2 linked regions of the Homo sapiens genome follow. The protein of the gene in region 1 purifies or fractionates together with the protein of each later gene. This does not show direct contact. Each region holds a gene or a part of one and is shown in the gene's direction. Other genes may lie near its edges. The genes, in order: NPAP1 and ACACB.

Region 1 (3,913 bases):
TAAAGAGTGGGCCTTGCTGGCATGCGGACAATGACCAAATTGTATTGATCATATTTTAATCGAATACATTGCTCCACTACTGACTTGCAAATACATGATGAATTTGCTTTCTAACATATTCCAAGAAGGCCAGAGAACTGGCTTATCCATTTGGATTAATCCACTGGTGAATTTCTTTCGGGATAGGCCAAAATGGATCTGGACTATAATCTTTACATATTTAGATCCTTCAAACTAGACCAAAAAGGAAATCTGGGCTGCAAGGCTCAATTAGAAGAACAGTGTGGGATGCTGCTTTGCTGACTATTGGGGGTCGCTGCCCCATGTCTTCAGAGGAGACTGGAGCCCAGTGCCTGCCATGACCAACTTATGAGGTGAAGTAAGGGCTTCCCCCTAGGAACGCATGTGCTTAATACAGATGTGCTGTGTGCTAGGTACCCTAAGGACTACAGGAAATAATGAGAATACATGATGTGTCCATAACAAGGAGGCACACAGGCCACGGCACCAGCTCTGGAATCACACAGCCCAGGTTCGAAGCCTGGCTAGGCCACTGTCATATCAATGACCCAAGGAGCAAGCAGCCTAAGGCTTAAATGTTGTTGCTGTTGTTTGTTGTGGTTTTTTGTTTTTGTTTTTGTTTGAGACAAGAGTTTTGCTCTGTTCCCCCAGGCTGGAGTGCAGTGAGGTGATCTCAGCTCACTGCAACCTCCACCTCCCGCTTTCAAGCGATTCTCCTGCCTCAGCCTCCCTAGTAGCTGGGATTACAAGTGCGTGCCACCACGCTCAGTTAATTTTTGTATTTTTAGTAGAGATGGGGTTTCACCATGGTGGTCAGGCTGGTCTCGAACTCCTGACCTCAGGTGATCCACCCGCCTTGGCCTCCCAAAGTGCTGGGATTAAAGGCGTGAGCCACCGCGCCCAGCCTTAAATGTTGTTTAAAACAAATTTGTGAAAAGAAGTGAAGAGGCCCTGCCTGCCAGGAAGAGATGTGGTAGGGCGTAGCATCTAGTCAGGACAAGGCACCACGTCCCCTCCTCGGAAACCCTCACGGCCTGGCTGGTGACCCTGGCGCCACAGAGACGGCACACCTGGCTCCAGGCAGCACAGAGCACTGCCAAGGTCCTAGAGGAGGCTGGCAGGATATAGGTTGTCCTGTGCTTAACTTGAAGCAGATGTGCCCTCTGTGAACCGGGGAATGGGGACGGCCGACACAGGGCCACTGCGTGCAACAGCGCCGGGCCAGGGCTAAGGAACAGGCAGAGCCGGCGCCCAGGTGACAAGAGCTCTGGCGATGGGCCCGCAGGCCCCAGCAGTTCCCTCATAGAGGCCACGCGGTGCAACACCTGCCACCGGCAGCGGGGCTTCCGGGGGTCCTGGGGCAGCTGGGGCCGACGGGGCGTCGCCCTTTGCCCTCTGACCCCTGCCTTTTGCGCCCCCGCTGGCGCTCCCTGGTTCTGTGAGGAACCTCGCGGCGGCGTCGCAGGCGTAGAGCCAGTCAGTTTGTGCTTGGTCGCCAGAGGAGGCGGTGGCTGAGGAGAGTTGAGTCCACTGCTGACCCTGTTTTACGGTAGGAGGCACGGCTAGCTCTAAATGGGCAATTTACTTAGTAAATTTAGACCCGGGTGCCGCCGCCGGCCCCTGCCAGGGCCAGGGCGTGGCGCCCCCGCTCCCCTGTCCCGGGACGCCTCCCCGCCCGGTCGGGCTCACTCTGTACCCACCCCGCGCCCTTTCCGCGGCCTGTTCCGCCGGAACGCCCGTCGCAGGCCTTCAGCAGCCAGCATCTTCGTCGCCCCTAAGAGGCCGTGTCCTCTCCCTCGGGCTGCGGCCGCCCCTCTGGGGGTCCTGCCGGCTGTGGGTTGGGGGCTGGCCATCAGGAAGACACCCATGCTGCCTGCTCGGAACCCCCCGAGGTTTGGACACCCCAGTTCCGTAAGGATCCCTCCTCCCAGCCGCATGTTCACTCTCCTGCTGCCTTCACCACGTGAGCCGGCGGTCAAGGCCAGGAAGCCCATCCCAGCCACTCTCCTGGAGGAGACCGAGGTGTGGGCCCAAGAAGGGCCCAGAAGAGTGAAGAAGGATGAGGATCCGGTGCAGATCGAAGGGGAGGATGACGAGAAAAGGACCCCCCTTAGCAGCGGAGAAGCATCGTCCACATCCAGGTCCCAGGGCACCCAGGGAGACGTGGCCTCCTTCAGATGCAGCCCTGGGCCTCTGGAGGGAAATGTCTACCACAAGTTCTCAGAAAACAGCATGAGTGAGAAGGCCCAGGCGTCTCCAGCGAGCTCCTGCTTGGAAGGCCCTGCCATGCCCAGCACACACAGCCAGGCCGGATGTGCCCGGCATCTTGGAAAGCCTGATCCGGATGCAACAGCGCCCCCTGAGCCAGCCGTTGGCTGCTCCCTGCTGCAGCAGAAGTTGGCTGCGGAAGTGCTGAATGAAGAGCCACCGCCCAGCTCCCTAGGCTTGCCGATTCCGCTGATGTCCGGAAAGAGGATGCCTGATGAGAAGCCTTTCTGTATTCCTCCAAGGAGCGCTGCTCCTCCCAGAGCTGCCCGCAACAGGCCCTGCAAAAGGAAAATGTCGATTCCATTGCTGCTGCCGCTGCCCCCTTCACTGCCATTGCTGTGGGATCGAGGTGAGCTTCCCCCACCTGCTAAGCTCCCCTGCCTGTCTGTTGAGGGAGACCTACACACCTTGGAGAAGAGCCCTGAGTATAAAAGGAATAGCAGAATCTTGGAGGATAAAACAGAGACCATGACAAACAGCAGCATCACCCAGCCTGCCCCTTCTTTCTCCCAACCTGTGCAGACCACAGACTCCCTGCCCCTGACCACTTACACTTCCCAGGTCTCAGCTCCTTTGCCCATCCCTGACTTGGCTGACCTGGCTACTGGACCCCTCATCCTGCCTATCCCTCCACTTTCCACCACACCAAAAATGGATGAGAAAATAGCATTCACAATCCCTAACTCTCCTCTGGCTCTTCCTGCTGACCTTGTTCCCATTTTGGGTGATCAGTCTAATGAGAAAGGAGGCTCTTATAATTCAGTCGTAGGAGCAGCGCCTCTCACTTCTGACCCCCCAACACCTCCTAGCTCCACACCCTCCTTCAAGCCTCCCGTCACAAGGGAGTCCCCAATATCTATGTGTGTGGATTCCCCTCCTCCTCTTTCCTTCCTGACTCTTCTTCCAGTCCCTTCCACCGGGACCTCAGTTATCACCAGCAAGCCTATGAATTCCACGTCAGTCATTTCCACTGTCACAACAAACGCATCTGCCCACCTAACCTCACAGACTGCGGTAGACCCTGAAGTAGTTAATATGGATACTACTGCCCCATCTCAGGTTGTTATTTTCACATCTTCCCTAAGCTCCAGAGTGAGCTCTCTCCCAAATTCCCAAATACATTGCAGTGCAGAGCAGAGGCACCCGGGAAAGACATCAGTCTACACATCCCCACTTCCATTTATATTCCACAATACCACCCCAAGTTTTAACCAACTCTTTGGAAAAGAAGCCACCCCTCAGCCCAAATTTGAGGCTCCTGATGGGCAGCCGCAGAAAGCTTCTCTCCCCAGTGCCTGTGTTTTCCTGAGCCTTCCCATCATTCCTCCTCCAGACACCTCCACTTTAGTGAACAGTGCCTCTACAGCATCATCATCCAAACCTCCCATTGAAACCAATGCTATGCATACCACTCCTCCTTCCAAGGCTGTCATCTTGCAGTCTGCCTCTGTCTCCAAGAAGTACCTCCCATTTTACCTGGGGCTTCCTGGTTCTGGGAACACACAACCCAGCGGCAACACTGCCTCAGTCCAAGGCTCCACCAGTTTGCCTGCACAGTCAGTCAGGGCACCAGCTACAGCTTCCAACCATCCTTTAAATCCAGGAGCCACCCCTCAACCCAAAT
Region 2 (3,813 bases), on another chromosome or scaffold:
TGTGAGTGGCATTCAGCCACACTGCCACTGCAAGTTTGTGACCCCTGGATTGAGCTGTCGGGGAGCAGAGGGGCCATGATCGTGATTTCAGAGCACCCAACAGGAATGCACACACCTGTGTCAGGGTCCCCAAAAGCACCCCCAGGTTCGATCATCGCCTAGGAGAACTCACAGGTCTCGGGACATAGTCATGCTTATAGCTCTGACTTATTAGGGGGCAAGGATACAAAGCAGTTAGCCAAGGCAGAAGGCATCAGGGTGAAGTCCAGAGGAAAGCAGGTGTGCTGCCAGGGTCCTCTCCCAGTGGATTCACGCAGGGTGCACTTCATTCCCCCAGCAAGGAGTTGTGACAACACAAGTGAAGGGTTGTCTTCCAGCCCCGCACCAGGGATTGGTGGCTGGTCACATCACCCTCTGCTCTGCATCGAAATCTCAGGCTTGCAGAAGAAAGCAGGTGTTCAGCATAAACCACACTGTTTGTGCAAACAGTTGAGGCACAGTGAGCCCCCCTTGTCACCTTCAGGGAACGATAGGAACCTTCCCCAAGTCCAAGTTCCCAGAGGCCAGCCAAGGGCTGTCCTTGCAAGCAAGCAGGTCTCCTTTCTCAGAAGAGCAGTGTGGGGCCTGCTGTGCTGACTTCCTGCACACCATTTCATTACCCCTCCCGTATCTGATTCCAAGGCCCAATTCTAACAACCTCAGGTGGCCCATTGAGATTTGCTGCTGGTGAGCAGCCAGTTCTGGGAGCATCGTTGTCTAAACTCCAGAAGGCTGCTGACTTTGTCCCAAGGGCAAGTTTGATGGAGGGATTACAGGGAGCAGAGGACTGGAGTGTCCGTCAGGACCAAGCCTGACTGCCTCACCAGCTGCCTGGGGCTGGTGGATTTCTCCAGGAGAAATTGATGCTGGGAGTGTTTCTTCTCTGTGGTCAAGTTCAGCACTTGGGGCTCCCCTCGGGACTGTGTTGAGACTGGACTCTCATGCATGAATCATTGATTCCTACACTTGTTGAGCTCTTACTCTTCACCAGGTCCTGAGGGATCAGATGAGACCCTCCTCAGGCCCCGGCCCCAGCCATTGTCTCATCCCCTGCCCATTTTAAGCCCCCATTTGGAAGAGCTCTAAATCTGGTCCAGCTCACTGAAGCTTCAGGAGTAGGAGCAGCTCGTAGAGTTGGGTCTGCAAGCAGCTGCCTCATCCCCGACTTGCCATCACCTTACAGGATGACCGTGCCCATCAGCATCACCAACCCTGACCTGCTGAGGCACAGCACAGAGCTCTTCATGGACAGCGGCTTCTCCCCACTGTGCCAGCGCATGGGAGCCATGGTAGCCTTCAGGAGATTCGAGGACTTCACCAGGTACCCAGCATGGCCCGGTCTCCAACACCCTGAGCATGGGGGCTGGGCAGACTTCCCTTGAATCCCCCCCCAATTCACTGGACAGATGGGGTGGGAGAGACCCAGACACGTGGCACAGCATGTCAATAACAACAGAATAATAATAGCATTGTAGCCAAGAGTATGAGCCTACATGTCAGCTTGCCTGGCACAGCACATCAATAACAACAGAATAATAAGAGCATCGTAGCCAAGAGTGTGAGCCTGCGTGTCAGCTTGCCTGGTTTGAATTCTGGCTATGTGCTTTCTAACTAAGAGACTGAGCAAAATATTTTTACCTCTCCATACCTTCGTTTTCTTATCTGTAAAATGGGAATAATAAAGGACTCACTTCATAGGTGCGCCATGAGAATTAAATGAGATAACATATGTGAAATAACATATTTAAAGTATAATTAGTATGCAGATAATATAGTGACTAAATGTTAGCTCTCAATAGTTACTGTTATAGTCTTTTTTCAGCCTTTCACTGTGTGTTCTGCTTTGTGCTTGGAGTATCTTGTGGAATTTTCACAACAGCCTCATGAGGCATAGGGATTACTCTTATTACCTTTCTTTGACTCGGGGTGAGGTGAGGTTTCTAGGATCTCCCAGCCAGTAAAAATGGGAGCCAAGAGTTGATCTCAAGCCCAGCTGATGCCTGAAAGCGCTGGAATCCTTCCCTGTATTCCTGATCACAGATCACTTAGGTTCATTCTTCCCTTTTGGGAAGGACCCCATCACGGGTGCTCTGGACAAAGTAGACAGGGAACCTCCTGAGCTCTGTAGAGTTGGATAAGATCAAAGGGTGTTGGCTGGGAAATTGGGAGGGTCTGGCGTTCCCTGCTGCCTGGCTTGGAAGCTTGACCTCATCCCCATGGGTCAGCAGCCCCTCAGCCCTCCCTCTCTACCCGCACCCCCAGAAATTTTGATGAAGTCATCTCTTGCTTCGCCAACGTGCCCAAAGACACCCCCCTCTTCAGCGAGGCCCGCACCTCCCTATACTCCGAGGATGACTGCAAGGTAAGCGTCTAAGCCCAGGGAGCAACCTGGGGAGCAGGTGGGCCGTGGCCCCCAGGCTTTCCAGCCCTACCCCTTGCTTCTCCCTCTCAGAGCCTCAGAGAAGAGCCCATCCACATTCTGAATGTGTCCATCCAGTGTGCAGACCACCTGGAGGATGAGGCACTGGTGCCGATTTTACGGACATTCGTACAGTCCAAGGTACTCTGGGCGTGCCTCTGGTTTTGGTGGGGGTTCTTGGAGAAGGAGGAGGGGCTGGGCTCGTCGAGGCGGCCCTTGGGGAGGCAGGCGTGCTGAGTACTTCAGAGCCACAGACCTGGCTTCCCACTCTAGCTCTGCTCGCCTCATAGCTGGCGACCTTGGGCAGATGTGGCTGAACGTGGGGTCAGCATTTCTCTCGCTCACGGTGTTGCAATGATTCAATGACAAAGTATATACACGGCTTAGCCAGTCCCAGGTACGGAGGGCACACCCAATAAATAGTTTGGAGATTTTCTGGGAGTGTTTTTGTTGGAATAATCCAGAAACTGGCAGTTTTAAAATGGCTACTTACATTGATGACCAAGTGTGCCAATAACAGCAGGTTGCTCTGTAAGCCTGTGATGCCATTGTATTTCAGCCTGGGGGACAGAGCGAGACCCTGTCTCAAAAAAAATTATATATATTTACAGTATACAATGTGATATTTTTTAATTATCTTTTTAATAACAGCTTTATTGAGACATCATTGACATACTACACAATTCACCCATTTAAAGTGTGCAGTTTTGCAGCCATAAAAAAGAATGAGATCATGTCCTTTGCGGGGACATGGATGAAGCTGGAAGCCATCATCCTCAGCAAACTAACACAAGAACAGAAAACCAAACACCGCATGTGCTCACTCATAAGTGGGAGCTGAACATTGAGAACACATGGGCAGAGGGAGGGTAACAACGCACACCGGGGCCTGTCGGGGGGTGGGGGCCGAGGGGAGGGAACTTAGAGGACAGGTCGGTAGGTGCAGCAAACCACCATGGCACATATATACCTGTGTAACAAGCCTGCACGTTCTGCACATGTATCCTGTTTTTTTTTTTAGAAGAAATAAGAAAAAAAGTGTACAATTTAATATATTTTTAGTATATTCACCAGGTTGTACAACCATCACCAGAATCAATTTTAGGACATTCTCATCACTCCATAGAAAAACCCTGTACCTGTTAGCAGTCACTCCCCTCTGTCCCCAACCCAAAAACCCTCTCCCCACCACAGCCCTAGGCAACCACTAATCTACTTTCTCTCTATATAGATTTGCCTATTCTGGACGTTTCATATAAATGGAATCAGATCACAGGAGGTCTCTTATGATTGACATCTTCCACTTAGCATAATGTTTACAGGTTCATCCGTGTGGTAACATGCAGCAATACTTC

Evidence for each region.
Region 2: the proteins of NPAP1 (region 1) and ACACB purify together in Homo sapiens (affinity purification with mass spectrometry; one large-scale study listed by BioGRID and IntAct). This does not show direct contact.

What each region holds. Positions count from the first base shown.
Region 1 is NC_000015.10:24,674,275-24,678,187, forward strand, and holds the start of NPAP1 (nuclear pore-associated protein 1), read left to right. Parts: upstream 1-1,500; 5' UTR 1,501-1,593; coding exon 1,594-3,913. UniProt on the Homo sapiens protein: May be involved in spermatogenesis.
Region 2 is NC_000012.12:109,231,447-109,235,259, forward strand, and holds part of ACACB (acetyl-CoA carboxylase 2), read left to right. Parts: intron 1-1,222; coding exon 1,223-1,360; intron 1,361-2,301; coding exon 2,302-2,401; intron 2,402-2,491; coding exon 2,492-2,599; intron 2,600-3,813. UniProt on the Homo sapiens protein: Mitochondrial enzyme that catalyzes the carboxylation of acetyl-CoA to malonyl-CoA and plays a central role in fatty acid metabolism.